Regions from separate parts of the Homo sapiens genome. Here region 1 is linked to region 2. The links come from fine-mapping of genetic effects on gene expression. A gene starts in region 2. The other region holds a variant in brackets. All regions are shown on one strand. Distances are between the middles of the regions.

Region 1 (4,000 bases), 69 kb before region 2:
TTCTCAAACTACCCAAAAAAAAACTGAAGAGGAAGGAATCCTTCCTAATTCATTCTATGAGGTCAGCATTACCCTGATACCAAACCAGACAAGGACACAACACAAAAAGAAAACTACAGGCTAATATCCCTGATGAACACAGATGCAAAAATCCTCAACAACATCCTAGCAAATGGAATCCAACAGCACATCAAAACAATAGTACACCATGATCAACTGGGATTTATCCTAGGGATGCAAGGATGGTTCAACACATGCAAATCAATACATGTGGCACACCACATCAATAGAATGAGGGACAAAAACCACATGATTACCTCAATAGATGCAGAAAATGCATTTCATAAAATTCGACATCTCTTCATGATAAAAATTCTCAACAAATTAGGTATAGAAGTTACACACCTTAGATAGAAGTTACACACCTTAAGATAAGACAAAAGAAAAGCTAGGGATTTCCATGCAGCAAAGTTCTGGCCAATGAGATAAAAAGTGATATATGCTTGATGGTGGGGGCTTAGGGAGGGAGGTTAGTTTCTGGTACTGACACTTCTTCCTGCCGAGAGCAGCAAAAGCTATCTTGCATCCATAAGAGCACTGGAGAGATAGCCACTCTAATGTCACTGAGCCGCAGAATAAACGCCAGCAGCCTCTACCTCCAGGCATCTTGGTATATGAGAAAAATAAGTCCCTCCTTGCTAAAGCCACTTTTAGTCTAATTTTCTGGTACTTGAAGCCTGACACCACCATGTTCCTAAACAAGGAAAAAATAATAAAGGACTACTCCGGCAGATCAGATAAATAAAAAACTATTTCCTCTAAAATATGAGCTTGAGTAGGCACATTAAATCTTATTTAGTATAATCTCTTGTTCCTATTGCATATGACATCATTGAAAATAAGGAAGAGAAAACTGACTATTGGCCACAATTGTTGGAGGTCAAAGCTAAATTGCCTTACCCTAGAAAAGTTCTTCAACTATGTGAATTTATATCCCATCAGGCTTTGATTCGCAGGAAGGAGAAACAGCCTTAATATTTATTTTCTCCCTAAGCATAGATTCAGTTTTAAAAACACATGAAGACTAAAACATCAAAGACTGAATTCCAATACTTGATCTTCAATTAAATATGAAAACACAAAACATTTTCATTCTATCTGTAAGGCACTTTCTAAAGTGCTATAAAAAGTCAAAAAAATAAGAAATATTTATTGCTTCTTTCAAAGCCAATTATGATTGACTTTCTCTTATGCAACTTAGTTGCTAGTTTTACTATTGACTACTTAATTACCACTATTTTCACTGAAGAGCCCTCATTACAAGAAAAATTTGAATTCTACATTTCTATGTCATATTTAAGTATTACTACAACATACCACAGAAAAGTAAACATATTCAGGATATCAATCAAAATGCGGATTTATACACTACGCTCAATATTAAGAGGGCACTTTTAATGTGATACCATTTTTATATATATCATTGTATTTTTTAAGTACCATTACTTAAATTACTGAATATTACTTAAACCATTACTGAATATTTTCTCTCAACAAAGAAAGCTAAATGAAGACTTAATACTGCTGCAAAGCATTCACCAATTTAAAGAAAGATTAATTTTAATTCTTTGTTTTAAAATATTACAGGAATTAACAGAAGTATGTATACTATATACAGATATAGATTTATAGATATATACAATGTGTGTGTGT[GTA/G]TATATATATATATAAATATACAATCTTCAAGTTAAGAGTGAATGTTTGACATGAGGAGCAAGCTACATTTCTTGCCTATTTCTACAGGTTCATTTCTTGACACCAGTGGAAAAAATTATTTAATATTCTAAATCTTGAGGTGAATAGGGGGTTGCTATCCTTGTTTGTAACTATTCATCTCAATTCAGGTAAGGAAAAAAATATATTCAAGTTACTGTTTTCTGGGTGCTAAATTGAATCAGGTGTCCTCTCCTCTTAAGAAAATTAAGTTGCTTTTGTGCAAGAGTGTTTTAATGAGAACAGAGCCGGCCGACAGTGATAAATGGGAATGACACCAGAGAGAGCACATAAGCAGGACAATATGTGCATGTTACAGTCTTACAGCCTATTTTTCACTGACTATTCTGAATGACTTCTCTGTTTCTTAAGGGGCCTATTAATCTCAAATTTAGTTATTGCACAACGTTTATTTGAACATATATTCTGTGGATGATGACAGTTAATAAAGGAAATCTTTCACAAGCTGTATTTTTACATATTGTTCCAACTACAGCTCTCAGTCATTTGATGGTATTGATGGAATAACCTACATTGTGCTGAGGCTTTTTTTAAAAAGGCACATATATTCAGATTCCTTTCTAAGCACATGGGGACTCTTAAATAACCGTTAAAACGCATACAAAAAATTCTAGTACAAAACAGTAAAAGTAAAAGGACATCTTAACTGTTCAACAAAAATCATTTAATGTGCAAACTGACCCTTCTAAGACAAAACAGACACCTTTTAACACTTTTAAAGCCCTGGTACACAATATGCAATAGTTCGTGCATACCAATCTACATTTTCACAATATGCATGGGGCAAGAGAGGAAGGGCAAAATCAATTTTCCTGAGGTGCAAAAACAATGAAGTAACATAGCTGCTTTGATTTCTCTTTGGTATGCTTTTTTGATGAAATGTCATGTACTTAAAATAGTGATGATTCTGTATTTCTTATTTCTAGTAGAATACTTTTTAAGAGCTTAAAAGAATTGTTTCAACATTTTCCTAAAAACATAATTATCAGTTCAAATAAGCTCATCAATTCAGATTGTTGTTCTAGTTCTGGGAAGAAATTTGTTACTTTAAGGGTTACAGGTTCACAATAACAATACCTAATATTAGCAAGAAATATTTAATTCAAGATTTTAAAATCTGCCTTATAATTGAGGTGAAATTAAACTTAATCAAACATTTTGATTGCATCCTCCTGAAATCTCAGTCTTCAAAGGTGTTCAATTTCTATAAAATCAGAATTTTTAAGTGGGAGAGGCCATTAAATACTATGACAATCCCTTTGTTAATCAAGAAACAGAACTCCAGACAGGCAAAGGATCTTTTCCAAGGTCATACTGGACAGCAGTAAAGCCAGAATAGAATTCATCTCCAGACATCTCTTGCACCCTCTCTATTACATCCACACTGTCTGTTTTATATATTATTTTTAACAGACATTTGCAGATATATCATGGAAAAAGGGCATATGCTGAAACACTAATGGTTATGTTGGGGTAAATGGAATTATGAATATTTTTTCCTTTGTGCTTCTCCTAGAATTATGTTAAGAATTTTAGAGGCTCTCTCTTTAATCTTTAGGCAAACTTTGAACAATGCTGTGCACATATTAGATGCTCAATGTCTGACTAAAAATTGAATGAATTGAAGATAATACCAAAAGGAAACTACTTAAAAGTAGTTAAAAGACTAAACTACTTAGTCTTCTTTGCTATGCTAACACTGAATATTCACAGGAACAAACCATGGGTATAACCCAGAATACCAACACTTAAATTGAAAATACTATTTATTTATACTATTTATCCATTAATAGCTTATTGATAAATATCTAAGATTTTTATTGTAAATCTCTAAGATTAAGCTGAATGAAACTTACTTAAAATGTTATATACTATTTGATATTATATCTTTTAAAAAATCAATTTCTCAGTATTCCTCAAGTTTAATTCTTCTTAATCCTTTGGGTTTCCTATCTCTTCCAGAAAAGAATAAAACAAATGCTTCTCTAATTATTCATTCCTTCAACCTAAATTTATTAAGCAAACACAAAAATAAATACCATAGAGTACCAACTCACAGTCTAGGGCTAGAAGACAGACATCATAATAACTACAATACAAGAAGATCAATGGTATCAAAGAGTTATGGCAGCACAGAAATTAACTTTAAAATGGGCTTTTCCAATATCTCCTAGTGAAATACAACAAGCACTTTTCTGATCAATTA
Region 2 (4,539 bases):
TGCCAAACTTAGCCCCTGCAGATTTAAAGTTAAAGATCATACATCCTCTGTAATTTCATCTCAAAACTGAGCAAATAAGAGATCTAACACGAGAAGCGATAGCTAGTGAAGTGTGCATTGCAGATCATGCAAAGGTACTCTAAGTCTTACTATTCATTTAGCTCCGGGGATAGGGGGTCTTCATTTGACAGACCTGATCTTCACAAGAGTTTCCCAAAAGTTCACAGAGCAGCAGTGTTAAAGAAGAAACTATTACCATCAATCAGAGGGAGAAACCACCAGGAATAACTGCTTTATTCTCACAGTTACATATTCTACACATTTTGTTCTAAGTTGAATACAGAAGAACAAAATTTTAAAACAAACAATCCTTCATCTCCACAATTTTGGTTTAAATAATTCCTTTTAAAATGTTCCCGGAAGCTACTTCTAAACAGAGTAATGGGGTGGAGGTTAAGGGGAGAAGGGACCACTGCTGTTCTCCTAAGAGATCATTTCATTCACTTCCATCATGTTTTAACAAAAAGATAAAAATAACTTCAAATATCCTCCTGAGCGCTTCCTACTATGAAATATTGTGCCTGTTCACCTCTATCCTTATTTGCTCCGGTTGCATGAGTTAGGTATTAAACCTGTCAATAAGCTTGGAAACTGACAAACAAGGTCAAAAAGACAAGCGAATTGAATAAATTCAATTAATGTTTATGAAAAGTAGTACAAGATTGTCTAAAGGTGTTGGGGGGGGCATAAAAAACTAATATTTCTAATGTTCCCACCAGTGCCCATCATCTCCTGTACAAAGCTCCCACTATTCAGAGATCTAAGTATGCTTTCAGTCCATCCACATTTCCTTGCCAAAACACACACTACACTACACTACACATAGTCTAACAGTCTGTATCTGTTAGACTGCTAGTATAGCAACTGAATCCCGGCAGCACACGGAAGTATGCTGTAATGAAGTGTCCTGTAATCAAAGAGTGCAACGTGTCAGTCGGCTTGGGAGTTTCTGGAGCACCAGCAACTACAGCAAATCATCACTCTCCAACATGTGGGCCATAAAATCTGAGTTGGGGGCGGAGGTGTCCCTTTTCTTGTTTTTCCTCCACTTTTTTTTTTAATGTGGGGGCGGGGAGGACTCGAAAGTAGACTCGATAATGAGGTCCACTCCAAGATAGATACGGAACTCTTAGCAACCTAGATTCCCTTGGGATAGGATGCTACTTTGAAGGCAAGAGGAGTAAGTTTCATTCTCTGTAACCTCACTTCTTGACACTCAGGATAGTCATTGTTTGTCTACGGAAAAGGCTACCTGCCCTCAAATTCCTTTGCCTCGTTCCTAATTACAAGTTCCCTCTGGGGTTGGTAAATTAGAAAATCAGCAAAAGGGCCAAAGGCTGGTCAGTGCCCCCTGAAATTGGCAAGCGCTTGCAATGAGGGTTGCCCCACCTTTCCAAGACTCACAAATTAGTTCTGAAGTGGGAGCCGCGGTGGAGCCGGCAGAGGTGCAGCACTTACCCCCATTCACCCCTATGGACGGCTCCAGTTTAGCTCCAGCGATCGCCAGCACTATTCCGACCATGAACCAGTCTTTCCTCATTCTCTCCAGCAGCCTCATATTTGTTAGGGTGGGTGGGTTTTGTTTATTTGTTTGGCTTTTTTTCTTTTCAAGCTCCGATCACCTAATCCTTGGAGCGTCTCCACACTTTCCTTGGTCCCTCCAGACATGCAGCAGAGCAAGTCAAATTGCCGATTGTAAAGTAAAGACCTGGGGGTTGCTCCGGCGGCTTTGAGGAGGGTTGGGAGTAGTAGTAGCCAGTGACAGGAAAGTCTCACTGAGCGCCGCCATCACTACCACGCGCCTCAGAATACACGCGCACAAACGCCCCCAGCGCCTCTGGCCGCGGGCTCGCAGGTGCAGATGCTTTGAAATGAAGAACTCGGACCAGGCCGACAACGTGGGCGATCCGGCAAGGGAGGCTGGCCGCCGGATGGGGCTGACAAGCGCACCGCTGTCGAGACCTGCGGAACCTTCTGAATGACGAGGGGTCGGGGAGAGCGTCGTAAGGCGCCACAGCCAGCAAGCCTCACTGACTGTCCTTTTCTAACAAACCTTTAGGCACAGCCACCCACCCTTCTGGAGCATATCTCCATGGAGAGCCTCTCTTTTGCTGTGCCATGACTCCGCGGGCAGGGCTGACGTGTGCTTGGGGCAAGGGATTTCTCCGTTGAAGCTGCGGCAGCGGGGTGCAAGTTTGGAGACGCGCTTCTTCGGGACATTACGGCGCTTCCACGACGCTAGCGCTGACGTATGCGCGGGGGGGAGGGGAGGCCACTCTGGATCTCCGAGTTCCCAGCCTGAGCTGCCGGAGTTAGAGGTGTCCGCGCGGGAAAGTGGCTCGCTGGTGGGCGGGGAGCCTTATCTCTGGCGGTGGGTTGAAAATCCGGCGCCGGGCAGATGCCCACGTTCGCTGGACCCCTGCTTGCCGGCGTCCGCTACAACCCAAGGAAGGTGGGCCCGACCTCGCCAGGTCGCTCGCCTGCGGGTGGGCATTTGGTCCGGATCCCCTTCCCTCTGCGGCCCACACCTGTCTCCGGGACTGGGGAGGGCTGCAGGGATCGGGGCAGATCTGCCTTTGCGGGCCGAGAGTGACAGCTGAAGTCTCCCCACCAACTAAGCTACTCGCGGGCGGAGTGGGGTCTGCGCTGGCAAGCCCCTGGGCGCGCGGGTGCCCGCTCTGGCTCGCCCCCAGGGCTGACCTACCCAAGCCACAGGAAAACTCTGGGAAGAGGGTCGCGGATTCCAACGCGGAAGTGGTGGGGGATTGAGTCTGAGAGGTTGGGGAGTCCTACCTTCCATTGCCACGAGTGCTAGTTCTATCTGCCAGTTTCTTCCTTGAAATGTCTTGTGGCAACCAGTGACATTGATGGTTTCATGAATGGACTTCCTACCGGTAGACCCTGCAAGAGCATGAACTCCACTGTATCATTCATCCAAATGAAGAAAGAAAGAAAATAGTATGTGATATTTTGAAATAACCTGGCATCTGCCACTTAAATGGTTAAAAATAGAACTTAAGGTTTGGAAGAGATTGTTTCGTGATGACAGACTTTAATTCTGAATTTATTCAAAGCTGGAAAGACACTCGTCGTGTCATTTCCTCTATTTAATTTAGCTTTATCTTGATGGCAAGACTTCCAGAAACTAAGCCACTTTAAGAGTTGTGCTCCCAGTTGTAGGTTACACAGTACCAAGTGTCATCTAATTATACATCAGGCAACATGAAAAAAAATTAATTTCAAGATAAAAAGAACTTAACAGGGAGACATAGATGACATTAAGCAGTTTACTCTGAAAAGAGACAGGTACATGAAATATAAAATTTGATGTTAGTTGTCAGGCAGTCAGAAGATAAGTGAAGATAAATGAAAGATAGTTTACAACATAATTATTTTCTTATAGTAATTTCTTAGTAGGTTAAAGAGTCATACGTCTCAGTCATTGAAGGGATAGTTTTGTATTAAAACATCATTAAACATTAAGTTTACAGAAATTGAGCTGTTTTAACTGTACAGCTATTCACAAATTATTTACTAATACCTCTTTGATCTGTGTAGAGCAGAATCTAACTCAGAGATTTTTTTGTTCTGTTTTTAATGGTACTTAAAGGAAAAGAATATAATGTACCATGAATTATATTCTCTTAAGGCCTGTATTTGTTTGCTGTGGATGCTGAAACAAATACTCGAACTTGGATGCCTTCAAACAACAGAAATTTATTATCTCACAGTTCTGGAGGACAGAAGTCCAAAATCAAGATTTTGGCAGAGCCATACTCCCGCTGAAGGCTCTAGGGGAGAGTCCTTCCTTGCCTTTTCTAGTTTCTGGTGGTGCCTTCCTTGGCTTGTAGCTAGAGTGTTCCAATCTCTGCCACTGTTTTCACATCACATTCCCCTCTGTATTTCTTTCTAGTGGCCACATTATTCTAGTTTCTGCATCCATCTTCACGTTGCACCTCCTTTTCTGTGTATCTTTTATAAAGACACTTGTCATTGGATTTAGGGCCTACCCAGATAATCCAAAATGATCTCTCAAGAGCCTTAACTCAATCACAGTAGTCCCCCCTTATCCTGAAAGGATACATTCCAAGAACCTTAGGTAGATGCCTGAAACTGCTGGTTGTACTGAACCCTATCTATATATGCTATGGTATTTTTTCTTATACATACATTCCTATGATGATAATTTTTGGTTTATATTATTAGGCACAATAAGAGATGAACAATAATTAATACAGTCAGGCATTGCTTAACCACCGGGTTACATTCTGAGAAATGTATGGTTAGACGATTTCATCATTAGAGAAACATCATAGAGTGTACTTACACAAACCTAAATAATGTAGTGTACAACACACCTAGACTATATGGTATAGCCTATTGTTCCTAGGCTGCAAACCTATACAGCATGTTACTATACTGAATACTGTAGGCAGTTGCAACACAGTGGTATTTGTGTATCTAAACATATCTAAACAT

Alleles and levels. Alleles are on the strand shown, and positions count from the first base shown. SD is a standard deviation of normalised expression in the study named.
With allele G in place of GTA in region 1, the expression in iPS cells of the gene that starts at base 1,841 in region 2 is higher (moderate effect, 0.71 SD a copy in iPSCORE).

What was found. PIP is the estimated chance that this variant, and not a neighbour inherited with it, causes the effect. A credible set is the group of variants that fine-mapping cannot tell apart.
Region 1: its variant is the best candidate, but not a certain one, in a credible set for the expression of SLC10A7 in iPS cells (iPSCORE, PIP 0.52).

The regions. Positions count from the first base shown.
Region 1 is chr4:146,451,322-146,455,321 of GRCh38, forward strand. The region is part of intron 4 of SLC10A7 (solute carrier family 10 member 7); the gene reads right to left. Among named protein-coding and RNA genes, the nearest start is that of MIR7849, 45 kb to the left of the region's middle. The variant GTA/G (reference allele first, on the strand shown) is at 1,714.
Region 2 is chr4:146,520,100-146,524,638 of GRCh38, forward strand. SLC10A7 (solute carrier family 10 member 7) reads right to left here and starts at 1,841. Exons shown (of 12, transcript NM_001029998.6): 1 at 1,519-1,841. The coding sequence starts at 1,618. RefSeq lists enhancers at 969-1,198, 1,639-1,708, 1,929-2,008, 2,019-2,438, 2,609-2,688.